3 linked regions of the Homo sapiens genome follow. The protein of the gene in region 3 interacts with the protein of the main gene of each other region in a biochemical or structural test. Each region holds a gene or a part of one and is shown on either strand. Other genes may lie near its edges. The genes, in order: HMGN2, HMGN4 and HPF1.

Region 1 (7,526 bases), on a different chromosome or scaffold from region 3:
TCTGGGCTTAAGGGAGTTAAGTCTATGCTGAACGATGGAAAGGGAGAAGAGGACATAAAAACAAATTTGTTTTTCTATACCACAAGGCTTTTGTGCCAAGGTGGCCATGTGTGTCAAAGTCAGGGAATCCCTCCTCCTGGGAGCCAAGAGGAAGTCTCTCAAAACTAGAAGGGAAAGGTGTTTTCTCCACATCAATCCAGCTTTGGAGACATTCTATTAGTGACATATGCCCCTTCCCCCAAAAACAACAATGAAGTGTTCTGTGTGCTAACAACATAGCTTTTAAAAAAAAAAAAAAAGTAAAACAAAATTCTGCATTTTTATAAAACTTGATAAAAAATAGTATTTCAAACTGTACAGTCACCAGAAGTACACAGTTATCAAAAATGCACACACTTCACTTGGCATCTCCAGCACCTTCAGCTTTCTGTGCCTAAAAGAAAACAGACAAATTAATGCAATGCGTAGATTTCAAAACTATCTGTGTTCACATTCCACCTACAGCATCACTTTGCTCCCAGGCCAAAGTTCAGGTTTCAGGTACTGAGACTCAGTATTTCTTCTGAGAATGACTTACTAGGTAACTTTGCTAAGTCACCTCTCCTCTGGGCCTCACTGTAAAATTGAGGTAGGAAGAACACCAGAATAAGAGACCTGAGGTTACTCCTAGCTTGAAAACTTCATGTAGTATAAAACACAATGCCCTTCAGCTGACAGTAGAGATTTCAAGAATCCAGGATTTAAGTTAACAGGAAAGCCACAAGCACACTGGACCAAATGGTACATTTGGAGTGATACAAGAAAAGGGCAATTAAATTTTTGATATCAGCAACTAACTGAATGAACAAATCTAACAAAGGGTGAAACAGCAGTTATACCTGGTCTGTTTTGGCATCTCCATTTTCTGCAGGGTTATTCCCCTCCTTGCCAGCATCAGCTTTTCCCTTTTTCCCTTTGGGTACCTTCTCTCCCTTCTGAAAAAGGGGAAAAAATAGAACTGTTTCTCCCCATTTCGTATTACCAAGGTATGGTCTGCAAAGTTCTGCACAAGGTAGGATTGTTTACTCAAGATAAAACACAAACCCTCACCCATTTGACAAGAACAACTGATCAAAACTAGGCTAAATTATCTGTAATTTGCTATAATCTTTAGTACTTAGAATTTCCTAAGTAACAGAAGAATAAATTAGTTTAAACCCTGGGGTATTTAATATTTAAATGCAGATTTTCCTATAAACTAACAACAGAATTCTTGATCAGGAAACCAACGTTATGAATGACACGGACGAGGTAAGCTATCCACACAGTTTATAACCTCCATTAATGGAGGCACCATTATGCTAATTAAGTTAAGGCACTAAGGACAGTCCTCATTCTGTGAAAATGATCAGTTCCAATGTTAGCACTTACCTTTGCAGGGGCCTTTTTAGGCTTGGGCTCTGGCTTTGGAGGAGCAGGTTTCTTTTTTTGGCAGGAAGAGAGGAAAAAGTGAACATCAGTACAATGGACTGAAGAAAACCACCCACAACCAACCAAAAGTACCAAGGGTAGAGAAGTTTCTCCTCCTCCTCAAAAGTTTTTGTGGTTGGCTTTCTTCTAGAATGTTGGATTTCCAGAAGCCCACTCAAATGTCCCACTTTGGCTACAGGCATCAGAATTTCAGAACCAGCAAAACCCAAAGGGGCAAGAGTCCCAAGTAGAGGCAATGATTCAAAACCAGGCACTAACCATAATTCATGGAAGCAAAGGGAATTGTTTTTTGATGTTTTTTAGTTTCAGGGACAAGCACGAAAATTCAAAAGCATACACTTACAGCAGACAACCTCGCGGATCTTCTCTGTGGCTATTAAAGACAACGAGAAAGTTAGAAATAGGACAGGTAAGTCGCTTTGAAAGTTTGGTATCAATTTGCTCTAGATTATAGGAGTGTAAATTCAGGACACAGGTTACGGTTAATCACCGAGTCCAGTGGCCTCTGCTAGTCCAAGGCTTTGACCCTTGAAGAGAGAATGACTTACTTCGTCCTTCACCTTTGCTTTATCTCCCTTAGCATCCCCTTCAGCCTATAAGAAACAAGAACAAAAAACTGCAGATTTTGAGGTGGTTCTTAATTACTTCCCAAACTTTAGAGTGCTAAAAATGAAAATTAAAGCAGTCGTCCACACAACTTTTCTAGGACATAAATGAGTGAGCCCGACGTTCGTATAAGAACGAAGCGCGCGCAGGAGCTCCGGCTCGCCGACCCCGAGAAGCGAGGGCTGGACCGGAGCGCAGCCGGGGAGGGCAGCGGAGCCCGCACCACCGCGACAGGCAGGAGCAACAGCTGCAGATGGCGCAAACAAACCCCCTCCGGAGGCGGAGCCCAGCGCCGTTGCTATGGCAGCCGTCGAGGGCGGGAGAGGGAGGCGCGCGCAGCCCGGGGAACTCGTGGGCGGCGACAGCGCGCGTCTCGTGCGCGGGGAACGTGGGCGAGGGGGCGGGGCCATACCGCACAAGCCCCGCCCCTCACGGCGGCGGTTTTTTGGCGGCAGCGCTTTCCCCCGCCCGCCAACCCCGAGCGCCGCCTTCCCGCCCTTTCGGGTTTGAATTGCCCGCCCGCAGGGAGGGGAGGGAAGGGGCCCTCGCGATGGGGGAGGGGGCACGGGGCGGGGGCGGCGAGCCCGAGGAGAGCGGGATAAACAGCCGCCAACATGGCTCCTCCCGCCGCGGCCGCCGCTCCTCCAATATGGCCTCTGGCGCCCGCGGGCAGCCGAGCCGCTCAGGGTTAGCCCCGAGCTGCCCGACACCGTCTCCAGCCCCCGCGCGGGGAGGCTGCGCTGGCTCCTGCTCGGCGCCGATTCTCGCTCCCTGCACCAGGGAGGCGGCGGCGGCGGTGGCGGCAGTGGTGGCCCGGCGCCTGGGGCCCTCGCGCCACGTACCTTTCTCTTGGGCATGGTGGCGGCGGCGACGGCAGCGGGACGTAGGTGCTGGACGCGGGATGCAGCGGCGCGCGGGCTTTGGTCGGTCCGGGGGTCGTTCTCGCCTCTTCTTCACACTGCTCGGGCTCCGGGGGGTTTATAAAGTTTTTATAGCGCTGGGAGCCCCGGACCGGTTAGAACCGGATTTCACCTCCCGCCGCCGTTCATTGGCCCAGCTGGGGTCACGTGGGCGGGGTTTAAACTCACCTCCTCTGGAGGGAGTGAGGAGGGGGGTGTGTGGGGGGGGTAGTGCGCGGAGACGGCGGCGCGCCGAGGGGGTGGGGGCGCAGTCGGGGTGGCGCGCGTCGAAGGCAGTAAATGAGGAGGGGTGCGCGAGTCGGCGGGCTCCGGGTTCCGGCTCCCGCCAAGAGCTGTCTTTTGCAAACTAGCAAGTTCCTTCCACCTTATGCAACCCAGCAACCCACTTCTCCAAGCCGTGCGACACTCACGGCGCATCTCAGCGGCTTTCCTTCCTGCTCCCGCTGGGGGCCCCAGAAGAGGGGTTTGCGAGGCCTGGCTGCACTGCCCTGCTCCTCTGGAAGCAGGAGGAAGCGCGCGGCTGGAGGCACAGGCTGCAGTTCCCAGAGCCCAGGCTGACGCCAAAGTGGGAAAAAGGCGGGGAAACCAGCTTGGCGCAGCCGGACGTGCATCCTTCCGAGCTGCCACTTCGGAGAAGCCTTTCGTGCACCTCACCTGAAAGACGGTCCCACTCGAGGTGGGCTAGGGGTTTCAGGGGGAGACTTTCCATGCAGAGGTGCCTTTTGGGTGCCGTGGGTCAGGTAGGAGCTGTCCTTTCAGCACCCGTTGCGCAGCCGCCTCCCCAAATGCTATCGAAGCCCCCACCCCCAACTCCTCTCGGGTGGCTCCCTTAAGGTCCCTGTATTCCCAAACCTCCAGACCCCGCCACAGTATGGTGGAGAGCGGCCGTCGAGGTCTACCAGCACTCACTTCCCCCTACACTCTACCCCTCTCGGAGACATTTTGCCCAGCTGCCCAACCCGACGCGGCCACCAAGCCTGGGCACTGCAGCCGCAGCTGGCGAAATCCCTCCTTCCACACTGTCAAGCTGGCTGCCTTTCACTTGCGCGAGGAAAGGAGGGTGGAGGAAAGCGCCCGGGGATTAGGAAACAAGTAGAGGAACAGGTGGTGTGATGGCAAAAGGGCTCTTCCGGTGCCCCCTAGTCCAAAGCCAGGGTCTTGGAGCTAGCCAAGTGCACCTGAGGGAGGGTAGGCAATTGCAGCAGCAAAAGAAGGTGTTCTTCCGTTGCAGTTAGCAAACAAGTTTTACATCTAAGAATCTTTAAAAATTCTATTTGAGACCCAGCACACAAGAATACGATAGATGTCCTCAAATGGGGGCTTGGCTCACAGGTGGAAGGACACTAAATTGGTCCCATCTGATTTCTTGAGGCAAGGGTTGAACCTGGCTTGCACAAATCACACCTGTCCAAAGCAACCACGAGTTCTACTATTTTGCAGCCCTTGCTGCTGGGCGACGACGACGACCTCTCTGCCTCTTCTTTCCACCACTACATCGCCTCCTGGGGCAGCTTCTCCCTACTCCACCCTGTGTACCTTTCCCAGAATACAGAACCTCAGGCCAAAGAGAGATGCCAGCCCCATTAATCACCTCTACTGTACCCCAATCATATTACGGAAAGTCAGACCCAGGAGACAGGACTCAACAGCCACGCTCATAGGGCAGATTCCGTTTGCTGCCTCCAGCCCCTCATTCCCGCCTTAATTGTAGGGCTCTGCATTATAGCCGCATAATTCATGCCTCCCTAATTATGGCTGTCAACAGCCCCATTGTAAAGCTGTAAAATGTACAGCACCTGCTCTCCAGGAACCCTGTGCCAGGGATTGGTAGAGGGGAGTGCCAGGTGTGGATGGGGGCTTTGCCAAAGGGTTCACTGATTGGCTTCTCAATCGCCGTGTCTGGCATTTATGCTTGATTCTGGGAGCATGGACAATAGCCAAGAAGTCTCTTGCCGCCAGGTATCCCGGGACAGAAAGGGGAAGAGGCGGGTGGGGTATAGGAAAGTTAGGGGTTTCCTGTGTGCTCTTGCTACAACTTGCAAGATTTCACCTCTCCCCTAGAGGGAGCTGCTAGGGAAACAGCTTGCAGAAAGTAAAATGGGAAGTCTGGCATGGTGGCTCATGCCTGTAATCCCAGCACTTTGGGAGGGTGAGGCCGGCGGATCACCTGAGGTCAGGAGTTCGAGACCAGCCAGGACAGGGTGAGATGCTGTCTCCAAAAAAAAAAAAAAAAAGAAGAAGGAAAATGGACTTTAAAGAGAGTAGCATTTGGTTGGTGTTGCTGGCTGGTACTTGCCGGTGTGGGGCACCTGAAATAGAGTTGCTCAGGCAGACAGCTCTTCAAAGGCACTAATCCTCTCAGCAGCTCTGCAGCAAGTCCTGGCAGAGGGAGGTAAGGGAAAGGACACAGCTTTGACCCTCACAAGCAGAGGACCTAGAACAAGCTTTGCCATGCCAAGAATAAATCATCTAGGGCCTACTTAGGGAGCCAGGTCAAAAAGCTGAGAGAAACCTCGAAGAGTGGAGTGGGAATCAGAGTTTGAGATGGTGAGGGCAGGGAGCAGAGTCAGTTGGAAGAAGTGTTTGGTTCTGCTCAGTCCTGTTGTGTTACAGGGGAGGCCTGTGCTGGATTCAGTTCACCAGGGCCTACAGGCCCTTCTGTTACCCTGAACCATGGAGGGGGCCAGTCTCATTTGGGAGTGGAGCCTGGCCCCATGCCCTGCAAGAGGAGGAGAAAAGCTTGTGTGGGCTGAGTCGACAATAGGTAATTGGATTGTAATCGCCCGCCTGGCTTCCGCGCACCATTGGGGGTGCTGAGTCTTTCAGTGAGCAATCAGTACTGTGTGGTGGGAGAGGGTAGAGATTCAATAGCAAATCCCAGGTGGAGAGCCAAGGGGGAGGAGCAGCAGATGGGCAAATTTTCTGTCTCTCCCACCCCTTTTTTCCTTACCCAAATAACTGCCTGCCTATTAGTTATTTACTAGCAGATCCAAGGTAGAGCCAAATCTTTTGTGGAAGCTGGGTGGAAGGCTAAAATGGAAGGGTAAAGAGCTAGGGTTTTGGGGAGAACTCTTCCCTGAAATTCTGTGTGTTGAAGGATGTGCTGGTGGAAAAAGAAAGTGCATCTAAGAGACAGGCAGCTGATGAGTTGTGGCCCTTTGCTCTCCAAACCCTATTGGTGACCAGACCTAGGTTTAGTGTACTCGTGGGAGACTTTCACCCTCAATCCTCCTCAGGAGCCTGTCCCAGGCAGCCCAAAGGTATCTATGGCCAGCAAACCTGGCCTGGGGGGCTCCCCAGCCAAGCAAAGGGAACACCATTCATTATCAGGAAAGGAGGTGCCTTTCACCAAGAAAAGGAAGGGGAGTGGAGCCCTGGAGGCAGAGGGCAGGGCAAAGTGGCAGGTGGCCAGCCTCATTCAGGCTGATGCAGTGCCCAGACGGGCCAGCCAGTCAGCTCGCTTGAGTTCCAAGGCCTGCAGGAAGCCTTGGACTCGCTCTTCCCGTCTGGCCGAGAGTTTGTGCAAGCGTGTCCTTCGGAGCTGGGCGTCCCCACTGGCTTGGAGCCCCTCTCGCAGCAGCTGCTCTGTCACTGTAGCCTGGTCCCTCTCCAGCTGCTGCCTCTTCCGCTCCTCTGCATACATGTCTCGGGCCTTCTGCTAGAGAAAAGTGGGGATTGGGGTGGGGAGATCATTTTTAGGAGTGGGTGAAACTGGGATGGAGGAGGTAGGGGGTGGGGCACAGGGTGGGCCAAGTGAAGTGGAACAGTGGAAAGTAGGTACCAGATTTGAAAAGGCTTGGGAGTAGGTATGCAGTGGGTGGTGCTCATGTTGTACAGGCAGGGCAGTGGCAATTCTGGGTCCATCTTGGTTTGTTTTGTGTGGAAGCGTCTGTACTTCTTAAAGTTTTTCTCATGCTCTTGGAACCAAACAAATGTGGGTCTGACTTCTGATTCCCCCATCAACTGGCTTTGTGTCTTTGGGCAAATCCTGTCCTAACCTCATTTCTTCATCTGTAAAGTGGGGGTTGTGCCTACCTTGAAGAGTGGTTTTAAGGATTAGAGATAACATATGCAAAATCCTCTCTAGGATATTAGCAGGCTCTTAGACAGAAACAGCAATTTTACAAGTTGTTATTGTCTATTCTCCGCTGCAAGAAAGGTCCTATTCTTGTCGGGGACATGTCCCTTGGGTCACTTCCTTTGATCTCCCCAGGTTTTCCTCTGAGGGTACCATCCTCCCCACTCCCTAGGCTATTTTTCAGAGCTCCAGACTTGCCTCCTGTATGAAGACCAGCCTGATCCTTCCAGCAAATGACCCCCCTATGAACATTCTGAGAAGCAGGTTCAACTCTCTTAAGCCACTTATTGCATTCTGCATAGTAGAATAAGTGTTAGTGTTCACAATCCACTCTTTCTGTTAGAAAATAAGCCCTTGGAAGTTTGAGAGCCTTCAAGCCTCTTGCAACCAGCTCTGACACCAGGTGGTGATCATACTCCCTGGCAGCAGTTATCATCCCAAGTACTAGAGGG
Region 2 (7,392 bases), on a different chromosome or scaffold from region 3:
TTGGACTTCTATCCTCCAGAAGTCAAAGAAAATTAATTTTTGTTGTTTAAGTCACTCAGCCTGTGGTACCTTGTTTCGGCAGCCCTAGCGGACTAACATAGGAGGGAACAGTGTAAGAATTTAGTGACTCAGGCAGGGCGTGGTGGCTCACGCCTGTAATCCCAGAACTTTGGGAGGCCAAGGTGGTCAGAAGTTCGAGACCAGCCTGGCCAACATGGTGAAACCCTATCTCTACTAAAAATACAAAATTAGCCATGGGTGGTGGTGCGTGCCTGTAATCCCAGCTACTAAGGATGCTGAGGCAGGAGAATTGCTTGAACCCGGGAGGCAGAGGTTGCAGTGAGCCGAGATTGCGCCACTGCACTCCAGCCTGGGCAATAGAGTGAGATTCTGTTTCAAAAAAAAAGGAATGTAATGACTAGGGAAACATCTTGGATTAGATTAATTTGGGGGTCTCACCCAGCTCTCAAAATATATTTTTCCATGTTTTTTCTCTTTCATAGCAAGCAAATCCATGGACCAAAATGCCACCTCATTCAATACTCATTTTCACCTCATCCCTAGCAAACACAAGGCACATTTTAGCAGCATCTTTTTGATCACTCGATGGATACGGAACTGGGTTTCTGGGAGGTAGTTCTAACTTGGGTTTTAGCCTCAATCCCACCCCGAAATCAGAAGGTTCCCCTCTCCCTCCCTGCCTCTTACTTAAGGAGAGATCGTGTTTGGGGGTTGGAGGGAAGATCTGGAAGAAAGTTAAGAACACCAAGCTTAGGAAGGAGAGAATAAAGGATATAATTAAAATACAATAAAAAATGCACAGGCAAATGCTGGGCGTGGTGGCTCACGCCTGTAATCCCAGCACTTTGGGAGGTGGAGGCAGGTGGATCACTTGAGGTCAGGAGTTCAAGACCAGCCTGGCCAACATGGTGAAACCCATTTCTACTAAAAATACAAAAATTAGCTGGGTGTGGTGGCATATGCCTATAGTCCCAACTACTTGGGAAGCTGAGGCAGGAGAATCACTTGAGCCTGGGAGGCGGAGGTTGCAGTGAGCCAAGATTGTGCCACTGCACTCCAGCCTGGGTGACAGAGCAAGACCCGGTCTCAAAAAAAAAAGAAAAAAAAAAAAAGATTCACAGGCAAGATGCAGTGTGCTACAGAAGCAAGAGGTCACATGGTGTCAGTCACTCTCCAGGGCGTTTGTTCTTCATCTTCCAAAGTATTAGAGACGCAGCATGAGTTTCCACGGAGGTTAAGTGAGAGAGACTGGGAGATGCAGGGGTAGAAAGGAAAGATGAGAAAACGCAGGGTGTCTAAAAGGGTAGGTTTGCTGCTGCAGCTTGCCAGAATGCATCTGCTTTAAAGAGAAGGAGTGAGCCATAAGCTCCCAAACAGTCACCCATCTGTAAAGGTTGGTTAGGGGCACACTCACCTTCCAGGCTAAAGTATTCCTGCTAACTGGGATCGGAGAAAGATGAAGAGGATAAATCCTTGTCATCTCCTAGGACCCTGGAACCTTTGCCCCCTTTCTGGGCACCATAATAACTTGCTTATATTTCTGAGTAGTACAGAGGGGATTTTAAATGAAAATGTATTAGACAGGTTGCTGTTGAGCACATGCCCAAGTTTATTGTCTTGCTAACCAAGATATTATCTTGCTAGCCAAGGTGTTGTCTTGTTAAGGGAACCAGCAAGATGACAAAAGAATGGACCTTTCAAGTCAACGTCTACCCAAGCAGCCTGTTTAAGAAAATGATAAAAAGAAAACAGCTCATTAACATTGTCCTTTTCTTTCTTTTCTTTTCTTTTTTTTTTTTTTTTTTTAATTTTGCGGACCCACCAAAGAATGCAGCCCTTCTTTTCTCATGGTCATAAAAATATCACATTCGGTTGGGCGCGGTGGCTCATGCCTGTAATCTCAGCACTTTGGGAGGCCGAGGCGGGCGGATCACTTGAGGTCAGGAGTTTGAGACCAGCCTGGCCAATATGGTGAAACTCCGTCTCCAACTAAAAATACAAAAATTATCCGGGTGTAGTGTTACACACCTGTAGTCCCAGCTGCTCGGGAGCCTGAGGCACAAGAATCGAGGTGGAGGTTGCAGTGAGCGAGATCGCACCATTGCACCCCAGCCTGGACAACAGAGTGAGACTCCGTCTCAAAAACAAACAAACAAAAACAAACACATCACATTCTTATTAGTCATTTGAGGGAACCTGGAGCAATATGATCTGAGAGGCTAGGCTTGGCTAATCCCTAGAAAAAGTAGTAATACATCTAAGAAAGAAATCCCTCTTAGGGAACACCCGAGGCTGCCAGGTGACACAACAAAACTTTCTCATAAAAGCGTTTGATTAATCCGATTAACTTGTAAGCAAGCCATGTGGCAGAGGTAAGAGGCCAAACACCAAGGCACCAGTCCTGATTCTAAACAAGTGCTGGTCCATTTCTTAACTTTGGGATCCATTTTTTCTTTGTGATGGAATAGCAAAAGGTCAAAGTGGAGGAGGACTCAGCCCTTGGGTGTCTCCTCAACGAGGGTTTCTCGAAGGTAAATTGGGGAGGAAGGGAGAGCCCACGGCAGGTCAGTCCAACCTGCCAGTCACCACCTCTTTAAGGCCACAGCCCTGCGGGAGCAATCCTTTCAAATCCCCTTCCTTCCTTCTTTTAGAACGCCCCTAGAACGCCGATTAGGACTTCTCATCCCGGTCGGGCCTGCGGCTCTCTGTGACCCCACCTCTGGATTCAGCTTTTCCCAGGGATTCACACTCGGAGCTCAGGAGAGATGCTGCGATTACTCTGGAGACGGGAAGACAGGCGGGGCTGACGGGGCCCAAGGCCCCTAATCATGACCGGGGCCAGCTGGCAGGAGGGTCCTAAGTATACGGAGGGCGGCGGGACCCCCCCCACCACGCCCCTCATTTTCCGGGGTAGCGCACAAAGTCTGTGAGGCACTTACCCGAGTCTCGTGGCCGTCCGAGGGGCGCGGGAATCCCAGCTGAGGCCCGTGACGCGCCGGAGCCCTAGGCGTGGGCAGGGCCAGCACCAGCCCTAAGACAGAGAAGACGAGCGGAGCCCGGCTCCGCCAGGAACAGGAAGGCGAGGGAAGGTGAGGATGCGCTTCCGGGGCTGCAGGCGGGGAGCCGCCCCGAGTCCAAGCCGGAGAGAGCTGGTTCTCCCCCTGGCGATACGTGTGTGAGCCTCTGAGGCCCGCCCTAAGCACTGCTGCCCCGATCTAGCAAGACAAGAAGACAGGAAATTTATGACAGCCTGAAAAAGTCTTTAAAAGATACACACTGGAAGAATTTCGTAGTAAGATGAGGAAAAAAAAACGTGTTTCCGCCCGGTTTCGAACCGGGGACCTTTCGCGTGTGAGGCGAACGTGATAACCACTACACTACGGAAACCCACTAAGGGCTTATTTTTCAGAGTAAATAGTTCTTCCTGCCTAGTTCCGTGTTTCTTCGTTCCAAGTGCGTGTTTTGCTGATGTGCGCGTGCGTCTCTGTACCGACCTCTCAAACCAGAAAAACCAATGAAAAGCTCAGACCCAGCCCCTCCAGTGTTCAAACTGAAGCCATAGAATTTATTCTACAAATGACTGAATAGGGAAGAACACAATAGAGACTTTAATTTAATCTCTGAACGGTCCTTCGTTCTTCGGCCAAAATGGCCAGGCAAGGCTGGGCACAACTTGGGTAGGGCGAGCGTTTCTCTGGCGTAGTTGGCGTTACCACGTGGTCAGTGGCAGAATGCTCCGCAAAGAAATGATAACCCCATATGTTGTCGGGAGCTGCCCCTCTTGCTTCTGAGTCTTCCAGGCAAATTTATCTTGCAGGAATTTCCTTACTCCTGCGGAGTCAGAAAGTTGTAAAACGACCCTGCTTACACCGAGCCAGCCAGGAGTCGAACCTGGAATCTTCTGATCCGTAGTCAGACGCGTTATCCATTGCGCCACTGGCCCTGCGCGTACCTTAGGGGCGAGGTATTTCATAAGAAACTAGGTTGTACCCGTAATATCTGGGTGAACGCCTGTAAGCCGCGTTTGCCCGCTGGTCCAGGCTCGCAGCGCATGGACTCTCTGGTAGCTACTTCTGCACACGCCCCGTGGCCTTCATTCCTTTCTCGGTCTGTCTCTGCCGGCTGAAAAATGGCGGTGAAAAGCAAGCCCTGCATCCTCTCTGCCCCAATATCACCGCTCCATTAATGCGTTCGTTCATTCAACCAGTATTAGTGTTCAAGGCACTGCAGATAACGGTGAAGAAAACATGAGAGACCCTTGCCCTCAAGATTACATGGCAGTGGCGGAAGCGGATAATAAAGCATTAAATAAACAAAATAATAGTGATAAGCGATTGGAGAAAAATAATAATAAAACAGGGAAAGAGGATAGGAAAGGCCAGCAGTGAAAGTGATGAATGAGGGATAAATGCTGATATCGGGGAAATGAGTGATCTGGAACAGGGAAAAATCGCTAGGGAAAAGGCCTGGAGGTGGAAGCAGGCTTGGGAGTTATGTTGAGGAGGCCGGTGCTCAGTGGAGAGGAATAGGAGATCCTGGGAGACCACCTCCAGCTTTATAGGCCCTTGTAAGGACTCTGGCCAGCTTTACAGGCTCTTGTAAGGACTCTGGCTGGTATTCTGTAGGAAACTGGAAGCCGTTGTACGGTGACGTGGTCTGAGTTTTCATTTGTCTCTCTGTGGGTCTTTTTTTTTTTTTCTTCAAATATTTTACTAAGCGAAACTGTGCTAGGCCTCCTCACTGCATGCTGCTTCTACTGCAGGGCCTTGATCTCAGAATTTGACAGCTTTATAAGGAGCATCATCAACCCGGACACTCATATGAATGTTCACTTTTTCACTTTGAAAGCAAACAAACGTCTCATATGTGTGTGTTTTAGTTTGTCCATATTTCTGAGAATAAATCATCCCCATGCCTGGTGAGCATTTTAAATAAGATGAGGTCTACTAAACAGAAGTAAAACTGCCTGATATTGAGAATATACACTTTGAGATTAGAAAATATTTGTTTTCAGTTCATAAGGTTTCAACAGCCGTTACAAAAAATATTCTGCTCTTTCTGCATAAATATTAAGGTAGACCTAGGTTATGGATTACTCCCTAGGCAATAGCATAGGGATCTTCTCGTTAGGTTTTGTACTATGGACCCCAAGGGCAGCTTGGTGATTCTGGACTCTATCTCAGAATAATACTTTTAAATACACGAAAGAAAAGATAAATATGTAAGATTTCAAAAGAAAACTAATTATGTTAAAATAGGTTACCAAAACTTTTTTTTTTTTTTTTTTGGAGACAGAATTTTGCTCTTATTGCCCAGGCTGGAGTGCAATGGCGCGATCTCGGCTCACCGCAACCTCTGCCTCCCGGGTTCAAGCGATTCTCCTGCCTCAGCCTCTCAAGTAGCTGGGATTACAGGCATGCTCCACCACGCCCGGCTAATTTTGTATTTTTAGTAGAGACGGGGTTTCTCCATGCTGGTCAGGCTAGAGCATCCCTGGAAGTCACAGGTCCCACCTAGCACCTTAAAAATGAGCTTTAACCCAGCTGGCTGTAGGCTCTGTCCACATTCAGTCTCCTTAGTGTTTGTCTATAAAAATTTATCTGTGTTTTGCAGGCTTTGAAGACCTCCCTTGGGTGCCTCAAATTTCTTAGCCATATTCACTACAATAAATGCTTTCAGCTGGGCGTGGTGGCTCACGCCTGTAATCCCAGCGCTTTGGGAGGCCGAGGTGGGCGGATCACGAGGTAAGGAAATCGAGACCAGCCTGCCCAACATGGTAAAACCCCGTCTCTACTAAAAATACAAAAAATTAGCCGGACGTGGGTCCCAGCTACTCGGGAAGCTGAGGCAGGAGAATTACTTGAACCCGGGAGGCGGAGGTTGCAGTGAGCCGAGATCGCGCCCATTGCACTCCAGCCCAGGCAATAAGAGCAAAACTCTGTCTCAAAAAAAAAAAAAAAGAAATGCTTTTGCTTTGCTCTTGGAAATCTTTCTACATCTTTTCTGACAGTTCCAGTTTCAACTTCCAGTCTTTTCTTCAGCATATATCGGAGAAAGAGTCCAGATATATAAATCTAGATATATATCTATATATATCTAGGGTGAGGACTGGCAAGTCTGAAACCTGTAGGGTTGTAGGGCAGGCTGGAAACTCTCAGGCAGAAGCTGATGCTGAAGTCTTGAAACAGAATTTCTTCTTCCTTAGGGAGGCCTTTGTTTTGCTCTCAAAGCCTTTTAACTGATTGGATAAGGCCCATCTACATAAGGGAGAATCTTTTTTTAAGGTTAACTGATTGTTAACCACATTTACAAGATAACTTCACAGAAACATGTAGGTTAGTGTTTAATTGAATAACTGGGTAGCCTAAGTTGACACATACAACTATGACAGTGGTGGACTCTTCTCTGTGTTTCAGTGCAGTTTTTTTTAGTTTCACTCCCAGGCACATGGAAAACTACACCATCTGCCACTCTCACATTGTTTTACATGACTGTCGGCAGTCTGTGACACAGCCACCTGCATCCTCTCCAATTTCAGACGTGTGGAGCGGAGCCAATGTGAGGGTTCCATGGTTCCTAATCACAGTCGGAACTGAATAGAAGATATGGTTCACACCAAGAGTTCTGTAAATGATTGCTCAAAGTCTCAATTTGCTTCCAAGGCTCATCTCTGGCTAAACAATTCCTTTGACATTCTAGAAATTCTGTGCAAACTTCGTCAGCTGCCAAAGGAAAAACCAAAATAAAATACTATTGGCTCTGCTGTCTGGGGCCTGCCACAGTTGGGTTAAAGCCATATTAGGTGTGACTGTGCTATTTATGATGATTATATTGGCTCCAAGCACACTAATAATATGATGGCTAATCTTATAATAATAAAGTAATAAGTGCTTATTTCATGAGTCTCAATCAAAGTGAGTGCTGAATTCATAGACTGGCATCTTTTTTTTTTTTTTTTTTTTGAGACGGAGTCTCGCTCTGTCGCCCGGGGTGGAGTGCAGTGGCGCGACCTCAGCTCACTGCAAGCTCTGCCTCCCAGGTTCACGCCATTCGCCTGGCTCAGCCTCCCGAGTAGCTGGGACTACAGGCGCCCACCACCACACCTGGCTAATTTTTTTGTATTTTTAGTAGAGATGGGGTTTCACCGTGTTAGCCAGGATGGTCTCGATCTCCTGACCTCGTGATCCGCCCGCCTCGGCCTCCCAAAGTGCTGGGATTACAGGCGTGAGCCACTGCGCCCGGCCGACTTGCATCTTTTTATAAAAATGAAAACTCTAGTCGGCGTGACCTTTTACTGTTCCCCCCATCGCATACATAGGCAAAGGTACATGCCAATGTCTGCCTTAGACTGTGACAGAGAAATCCTTCAAA
Region 3 (7,106 bases):
AAGGGTAGCATTTGTAACCTAGTTAATGTATTTCTAATTTGTTTTGACTAAAGTCTGAGCATCCGTACACATAATAGCTGTTAGCAAATTATTTAATCAGTCTTTTTTTATTTTTCTACCACAAGCTATGATTTATTTCAGAGGAGATTTTCTTAATTCTTCCCCATAAAGAAGATATGATTGAGGTTTAAATTTCATAGATATTTTTGTCCTAGACCCCTCCCCTATGAAGTTTCATTTTAGTATTTGTTTTTTATACAAAAACAGCTGGTAAAAACAAAGACAAAAAAGAACTTTCAAGACAATCATGTTTTTAATCCTCCCCTGTTAATGACTATACTTTCAAACCCTTTTCTGTTAAATGCAAGGTTGTTCTTTTATTGTTTTTGTGAGATCTTCATTGAATTCATATTTTTCTACTGAAGAATTCAATTCCACTAGTATATGTGAGTTAGTGGCTTTGTCCTTGTGTGTGAGCGTAAGCATATTTCCACTCTAGTATGATAGAGCACTGTGCAGCACACTAGAAATCAGTGTTTTTATACTGATAGTAACTTAGCATACTTTGGAATGCAGAGTCTTTATGAGTTATATCATTTGACTCCCTACAACAAATCTGCAAAGTTGGAATTATCCTATTTTATAGATGAGTAAATTGAGGGTTATAGAGGTTTTGTGTCTTGTCCAAAATCTTAAATGACACATGTAAAACCCAACTTCATATTTTCCATATTTAGCATTCTTTCCACCCCATCTTCTTACTAATTGGCTCTCTGCCACTTCACCTTTTTCATACCTGGATTTCTTCATAAGGAACGTTGGTTAAATGATGCATAAAATGATGGTGTGGCACTCCATCCACCTGTGATCCCATGCTTCAGGATGTCACCCACCCCTATACAGCTTTCCTAAATTTGTAATCTTATTCTTCTTAATTTCTTAATAAAATTACAATTCTGATGACTTCTTAATTGATTCCTCTTCATGGACAATTAGTACAGGTAATCATCTGTGAAAAATCTGAACATATTACCATCATTCTTTATGTTGTTCAGCCTGAGCTGGCAACTATAGCACTGCTGTCTTTTTCTTTCATTATCAGTGCTTTATGTCCTGCTTTTTACACTTATGAATATGGTATCTTTATCATTTCATATTGCCAATTTAAGATCTACCTCATAATTTTGAGCGGCTGCAGAATACTGTGCTTATGGTCAAAGTTTGGGTTGCTTAAGATTTTTCACAAACACAATCCTGCCATAGATATCCTTTTATACCTTTATTCTCATACTTATCTGGTTATTTTTTTAGAAGAAATTCCTAGACGTAGTATTGCCAGGTCCAAAGTAGTTTGTGTGTGTGTAGGTGTGTTTGTAGTTTTTCTTTGCTTGTTTCTAATTTTGGGGGGTTTTCTTTAGTCTTTTTAGTTTTTTCCATGCTGGTAGGTATAAAATTCTGCAGTTTTAATTAGCATTTCTTTAATTATAAAGGACGTTAAATACTTTTCTCTGTTGGCCATTGTATTTTTTTTTTAACTGCCTGAACTCTGCCCATTTCTCTATCAGGGTTAGAATTAGTCTTTTTCTTACATGTGTTCTAATTTGGATGTTAGTCTTTTCCTTTGTTAGACTCCCTTATAGTTTAAAGACATTAATTTTTATTTACTATTACATTTTGCAGATATATTTTATCAGTTAATTTGTCTTGTGTACTTGATTTCACTGGATAGACTTTTTATTTTTATATAGTCAACTCTTCTCTATCACAAAATTATTTTTTAAAATTTACCTTCGAGTAGTTTTATGTCTTTATTTTTTATTTATTATGCTTTAAATTTTAGGGTACATGTGCACAACGTGCAGGTTTGTTACATATGTATACATGTGCCATGTTGGTGTGCTGCATCCATTAACTCGTCATTTACATTAGGTATATCTCCTAATGCTATCCCTCCCTCCTCCCCCCACCCCACCACAGGCCCCAGTGTGTGATGTTCCCCACTCTGTGTCCAAGTGTTCTCATTGTTCAATTCCCACCTATGAGTGAGAACATGTAGTGTTTGGTTTTTTGTCCTTGTGGTAGTTTGCTGAGAATGATGGGTTCCAGCTTCATCCATGTCCCTACAAAGGACATGAACTCATCCTTTTTTATGGCTGCATAGTATTCCATGGTGTATATGTGTATGGTTTTATTTTTACATTTAATTCTGAAATCCAGCTGCAGATTATCTTGATAGAAAGATTAAGATAGAAGACAATGACTTCATTTTTTTCCCAAGTGGTAAGCAGTTGTCTGATAACTTCCTTTGAATAATCTGCCCTTTCTGGCAGCTTAATAAAGGATAATGAAAGAAGCAAGAGACTGGGAGAATAGGGAGATTAGAGAGAAAAAAATCTTTAAGATATAGAGACTTAGGTGAGAGGCCTTTAAAATTGGAGTTTGGTTTTTGGGTTGTGTCCTTCCTCTGCCTTGGAAACTTTTCACTGAATTGCACAAAGAAGTGGAATATTTGTACAGATGTTTCGCTAAGGAAAGACCTAAAAATAATGTCACTAACATGAGCTAAAGGAAGAATGGAAACTGGAAGGGTTATGGTGGTAGTTGTAGTTGGGCCTGTTTTTGTCTTTGAAGACTACCACTTAATAAAAGCTCACTGGTTATGTGATTTGCCTCCATAAAGGACACCACAAACCTAGAAACTGCCCTACTTTTGGGAAGTTTGCAGAGAAGCCTAAATATTCCAGGTAAAAATAGGGGAGTCTCAATTTGGCAGGATGGATGAGAGGAGTTCTGTCCTACCATATCTTCTTGCTGACAAGAACTATTTCTTACTCTTTTTCTTTTAGAACCAGGTTCCTCTGTGCTTTCTACCAGAAGGTACTTTGACCTTAGAGGAAACCAATATTTTGACTTGCCTTCTAGGATGTATTGGGTTCTTCCTTAACAAATCAGGGTGCAGACTTCCAAGTGACTGGCACAATTAAGAAAAGCCAATTATTTCACTGTTCTGTGATTACTTCAACTGTTTAACTTTTAGCTGATTTTCAAGAAAAAAATAGTGTTAAATTTTTACCCTGGAGTCCAAATTTACTGAAATAAAATGTGATTAAATGTTACATTTTGGCAGAAATGTTGAGGGTTTATGTATTTGGGGATTTTTTTTTTTGATGTCTGCTTACCATGATTACATTTTATTCTTTTCTTTAATGTAGGTTGTGACAAAGACCTTTCATGGTGCAGGCTTGGTTGTTCCAGTAGATAAAAATGATGTTGGGTACCGAGAGCTCCCTGAAACAGATGGTAATGTATTTCATAGTAAACATGTGCATATATGTTAATGCACATGAATAAAGGTTTTGCTTATATTGGGAAGTAGGTATGTCTATATACCTTTTCTGACACAGTCGCTAGACCTTAGTAATAAAGAGTAAGCTGAGGTTTTAGAGTCAGTCATTCCTGAATTAAAACCGAGTTCATAGCTGTGTGGCCTTGAACAAATTATTTAACCCTGTGAAATCTTGTCTTTTTCATCTGTAAAATGGAGCTAATCATATGCACTTCATAAAGGAATTTGTGGTGTAAACAAGTATTAAAATACTTAACAAAATGCTTGCCTCAGTGTTCAAAATTCAGTAGTTTCTTTTTTTGTTTGTTTTTTTTTTTTTTTTTTGAGACGGAGTGTTGCTCTGTCGCCCAGGCTGGAGTGCAGTGGCGCAATCTCAGCTCACTGCAACCTCCGCCTCCCAGGTTCAAGCGATTCTCCTGCCTCAGCCTCCCAAGTAGCTGGGATTATAGGCACCCACCACCATGCCCAGCTAATTTTTGTATTTTCAGTAGAGACGGGGTTTCAGAATTTTAACCCATTGCCTGCTTCTTGGGAACTATTTCCGAACCTTTGACATTACAGTCAACTTGCAAAGTAGTAATTATTGAAATTGTGTTTTTATGGTTCTTTGTGAACATTTTTTCATCTGCCTATAAAATGATTTAGCTTTCAGAAGCCCAAGATCCTGAACTACGTCATCTGTAAGTATAAAAACACTTTGAAAATGGACCACTGCGCATAATCTAGTTATTGCTACGTTAAACATCGAGAATTAAAATCGCTTCTCAATTCTTTTCCCCTTGTCTCCATTCCCTTATCGTGAACAGCCCTGCTGGTATTCCTTTATTGATCATCCTCTTCTGGGGGGATAAAACTTAAAGGGAAATCAAACTTAGCATCTTCTCAAAGAACCACATATTCCTGCCCAATGCACGTATTTGGCCGTCTGCTTTTCAGAACAGAACTAACTAGCCTTGGTAGTTACCAGTCTCTGGGGGTTGTGACCTGGACATCTGCATTTAAACCAATTCTCTAAAGCAGTTCTTCTCAAATTTTACTGTGCAGAGTCTCCAGCCAGTAGGTAGAGATGTCTTAGATGGCAGCTACTCATACGGACCTGTTTTTGCTGTACCCCTGCCACTTAGAGGAGTGCCATAGGGAAGACGAATGTGGCTGAGCTGTCCAGTGTGATGGCCACTGAGTGCCTCACAGGTGGCTCCTGCAACAAAATTTGTAACTCGTATTTATTTTTTACTTCTTTTTTTTTTTTTTTTTGTGACAGGGTCTCACTCTGTCACCCAGGACGGAGCGCAGTGGTGCAATTAACCTGTCTCGGCCTCCCGAGTAGCTGGGACTACAGGTGTGCACCACCATGCCTGGCTAATTGGTGGGTTTTGTTTTTGTTTTTGTTTTTGTCCTGTAGAGACGGGGTCTCACTCTGTTGCCGATGCTGGTCTCGAACTCCTGGGCTCACGTGATCAACCCACCTCGGCTTCCCAAAGTTTTGGGATTATAGGCATGAGCCACCGAACCTGGCCTGTAATTTTCTATAATTTTAATTAGTTTAAGTTTGTAAATTAAAACAGGATTAAATGTTTCTTACATTGATTATATGTTGACATAATACTATTTTGGAAATATGGGTTAAATAAAATATCTTAATTTCACCTGTTTTTTGTTGTTGGTTTTTTTTTTTTTTTTTAGCTCCTTCTCCTGCCCCACCTGTTTCTTTTTTCATGTGGATACTGGAAAAAATGTAACCCACACTGTATTTCTCTTAGACAGGCTGATCTGTCCTATATCTCCTCTTTGAAGCCAGAGTCAATTAGTCTCTGATGGGACCATTGTGGGCCCTAGCTACTGGTCAGTCTTCTGCTTCTACACTAAGTCATCTTCTCTTCATGTCTCTGCTCACAGAGAGAGCTTTAAAAAGCATGATTACTATCTCGTTTGGGAAAGGTTGCGCACATTTGTTGTAGAGATGGGCAGTCTCTAAAGCTTTTGGGGTGATGGATGTTAAATTGTAGTGCCCTGGAGTAAAGCCTGTTACCCTGCGGTAGTTGTGGTTCTGGGGTTTTATATCCAAGTCTACTATTCTAGGCATTAGATCCTTCTGTATTTAATTAGTTTTGAAGTGGTAGCAAAACATTAAGACTGAAGGACCTAATCTTCTTGCTCTTGCCAGTGTCATTTGCCAAGAGGTATAACTGACTGGCAGTTTGTTAATGTGACAATGATTAGCAAATCACAACTAAGTTTGTTCTTAACCCTTTGAAGCTTCTCACAATAACGCTTTAACTTAGCAAATAAGATACGTTTTATTGAGCAATTCTTAAATGTCAGTGTCATGATTCACTTTAACAAGTGATGTATTTAATTCTCACCCAACTCTTTATTGTAGGTCTTATTCCCATGTTCACAAAGGAAATAGACTCACGGTGCTTAGCATTAGTCAGTAAGGGCTCTGGTTTTCTTTTTTTCTTTCTTTCTTCTTTTTTTTTTTTTTTGAGATGGAATTTTGCTCTTGTCACCCAGGCCGGAGTGCAATGGTAGGGTGTCAGCTCACTGTAACCTCCGCCTCCCAGGTTCAAGTGATTCTCCTGCCTCAGCCTCCTGAGTAGCTGGGATTACAGGCACCCACCACCATGCCCAGCTAATTTTTGTATTTTTAGTAGAGACAGGGTTTCAACCATGTTGATCAGGCTGGTCTCGAACTCCTGACCTCAAGTTATCTACCTGCCTTGGCTTCCCAAAGCCCCGGCTGAGGGCACTGGTTTTCATACTTGGTTTTCTGACTGTAGAGTGCATACTACTATCCGAAGTAAGAAGAGTTGCCTGCCTAGTTGCCTGATTTTTACCTTGACAGAACTACTGTAGCTTAATTTAAGTATTCTAGTTGATAGTAGTGGCAGGGATATAGTAAGAATTCAGCAGTGAAACTCCTAACTCATTAAATTGAGTATTTTGAGTAGAAACATTTAAGTCATCATTTTTGAATAGTTAACTTAAGGCTTCACTCATGTTCTTTAAGTTTGGGTTTCAGTTAAATGAAATTTCTGTAGAATGTTTTATTGCTGGAAGAACATATTTTTCCTTGTACTGATGGTGAGCTGAATATTTTCATCTCTGTTCTTCAGTGTTTTTCTAGCTTAGTAATTCGCATAAGTTGCTTATTCTTTTTAGTCCATATGTGACTTGCCAGGTGTAAAAATAGAAAATAAGATACTGGAAAGCGATAAACTTTAAATTCTTCACTTCCATACCCACCCTGATTTGTAGTGGCTGACTGGAGCACAGCGAGAGAGATTCTAAGGGTCCCAGTCAATCAGTTACACCCACGATAACAGGGAGGAACCACTTATTTTCCATCCTTAAGGAGCTTTTTGGAGAAAGCTTCATCTGTTTTCTTGAAATGATCAGCACTGATTTTTCTGAAGAAAGGAATGTCATGAAGCTCATGTAAAATAATTTAATTTGTAAAAGGTTTCAAACCAACAAATATGTCACTACTGTTTATAGATAGTTAGAAACGTAGGTGGTGCAGTTTGCCATTCGTTCAATGCGATACTGGTCCACCAAAAGTGGGAAAGGGAACAACACATTTTGTGACTGGGGTAACAGCATGTATTCTGTACTGTCGTCAAGACTGAACCAAATGTTATTCATAGACTGGGGTTAAAAGCACTAGTATATAGTATATTTTTAATACCATCCTTGGTAATTTTTTTTTTTTTTTTTTTGAGACAGGGTCTTACTCTGTCACCCAGGCTGGAGTGCAGTG

Evidence for each region.
Region 1: the proteins of HPF1 (region 3) and HMGN2 form a complex in vitro, tested with the Homo sapiens proteins (one study listed by BioGRID).
Region 2: the proteins of HPF1 (region 3) and HMGN4 form a complex in vitro, tested with the Homo sapiens proteins (one study listed by BioGRID).

The regions. Positions count from the first base shown.
Region 1 is NC_000001.11:26,468,020-26,475,545, reverse strand, and holds the start of HMGN2 (non-histone chromosomal protein HMG-17), read right to left. Parts: upstream 3,107-7,526; 5' UTR 2,934-3,106; coding exon 2,919-2,933; intron 2,064-2,918; coding exon 2,019-2,063; intron 1,844-2,018; coding exon 1,814-1,843; intron 1,462-1,813; coding exon 1,411-1,461; intron 975-1,410; coding exon 879-974; intron 434-878; coding exon 398-433; 3' UTR 1-397. Other genes in the region: dehydrodolichyl diphosphate synthase complex subunit DHDDS, read right to left, coding at 6,415-6,654. UniProt on the Homo sapiens protein: Binds to the inner side of the nucleosomal DNA thus altering the interaction between the DNA and the histone octamer. May be involved in the process which maintains transcribable genes in a unique chromatin conformation.
Region 2 is NC_000006.12:26,534,070-26,541,461, reverse strand, and holds the start of HMGN4 (high mobility group nucleosome-binding domain-containing protein 4), read right to left. Parts: upstream 3,097-7,392; 5' UTR 2,961-3,096; intron 1-2,960.
Region 3 is NC_000004.12:169,733,854-169,740,959, reverse strand, and holds part of HPF1 (histone PARylation factor 1), read left to right. Parts: intron 1-3,212; coding exon 3,213-3,300; intron 3,301-7,106. UniProt on the Homo sapiens protein: Cofactor for serine ADP-ribosylation that confers serine specificity on PARP1 and PARP2 and plays a key role in DNA damage response.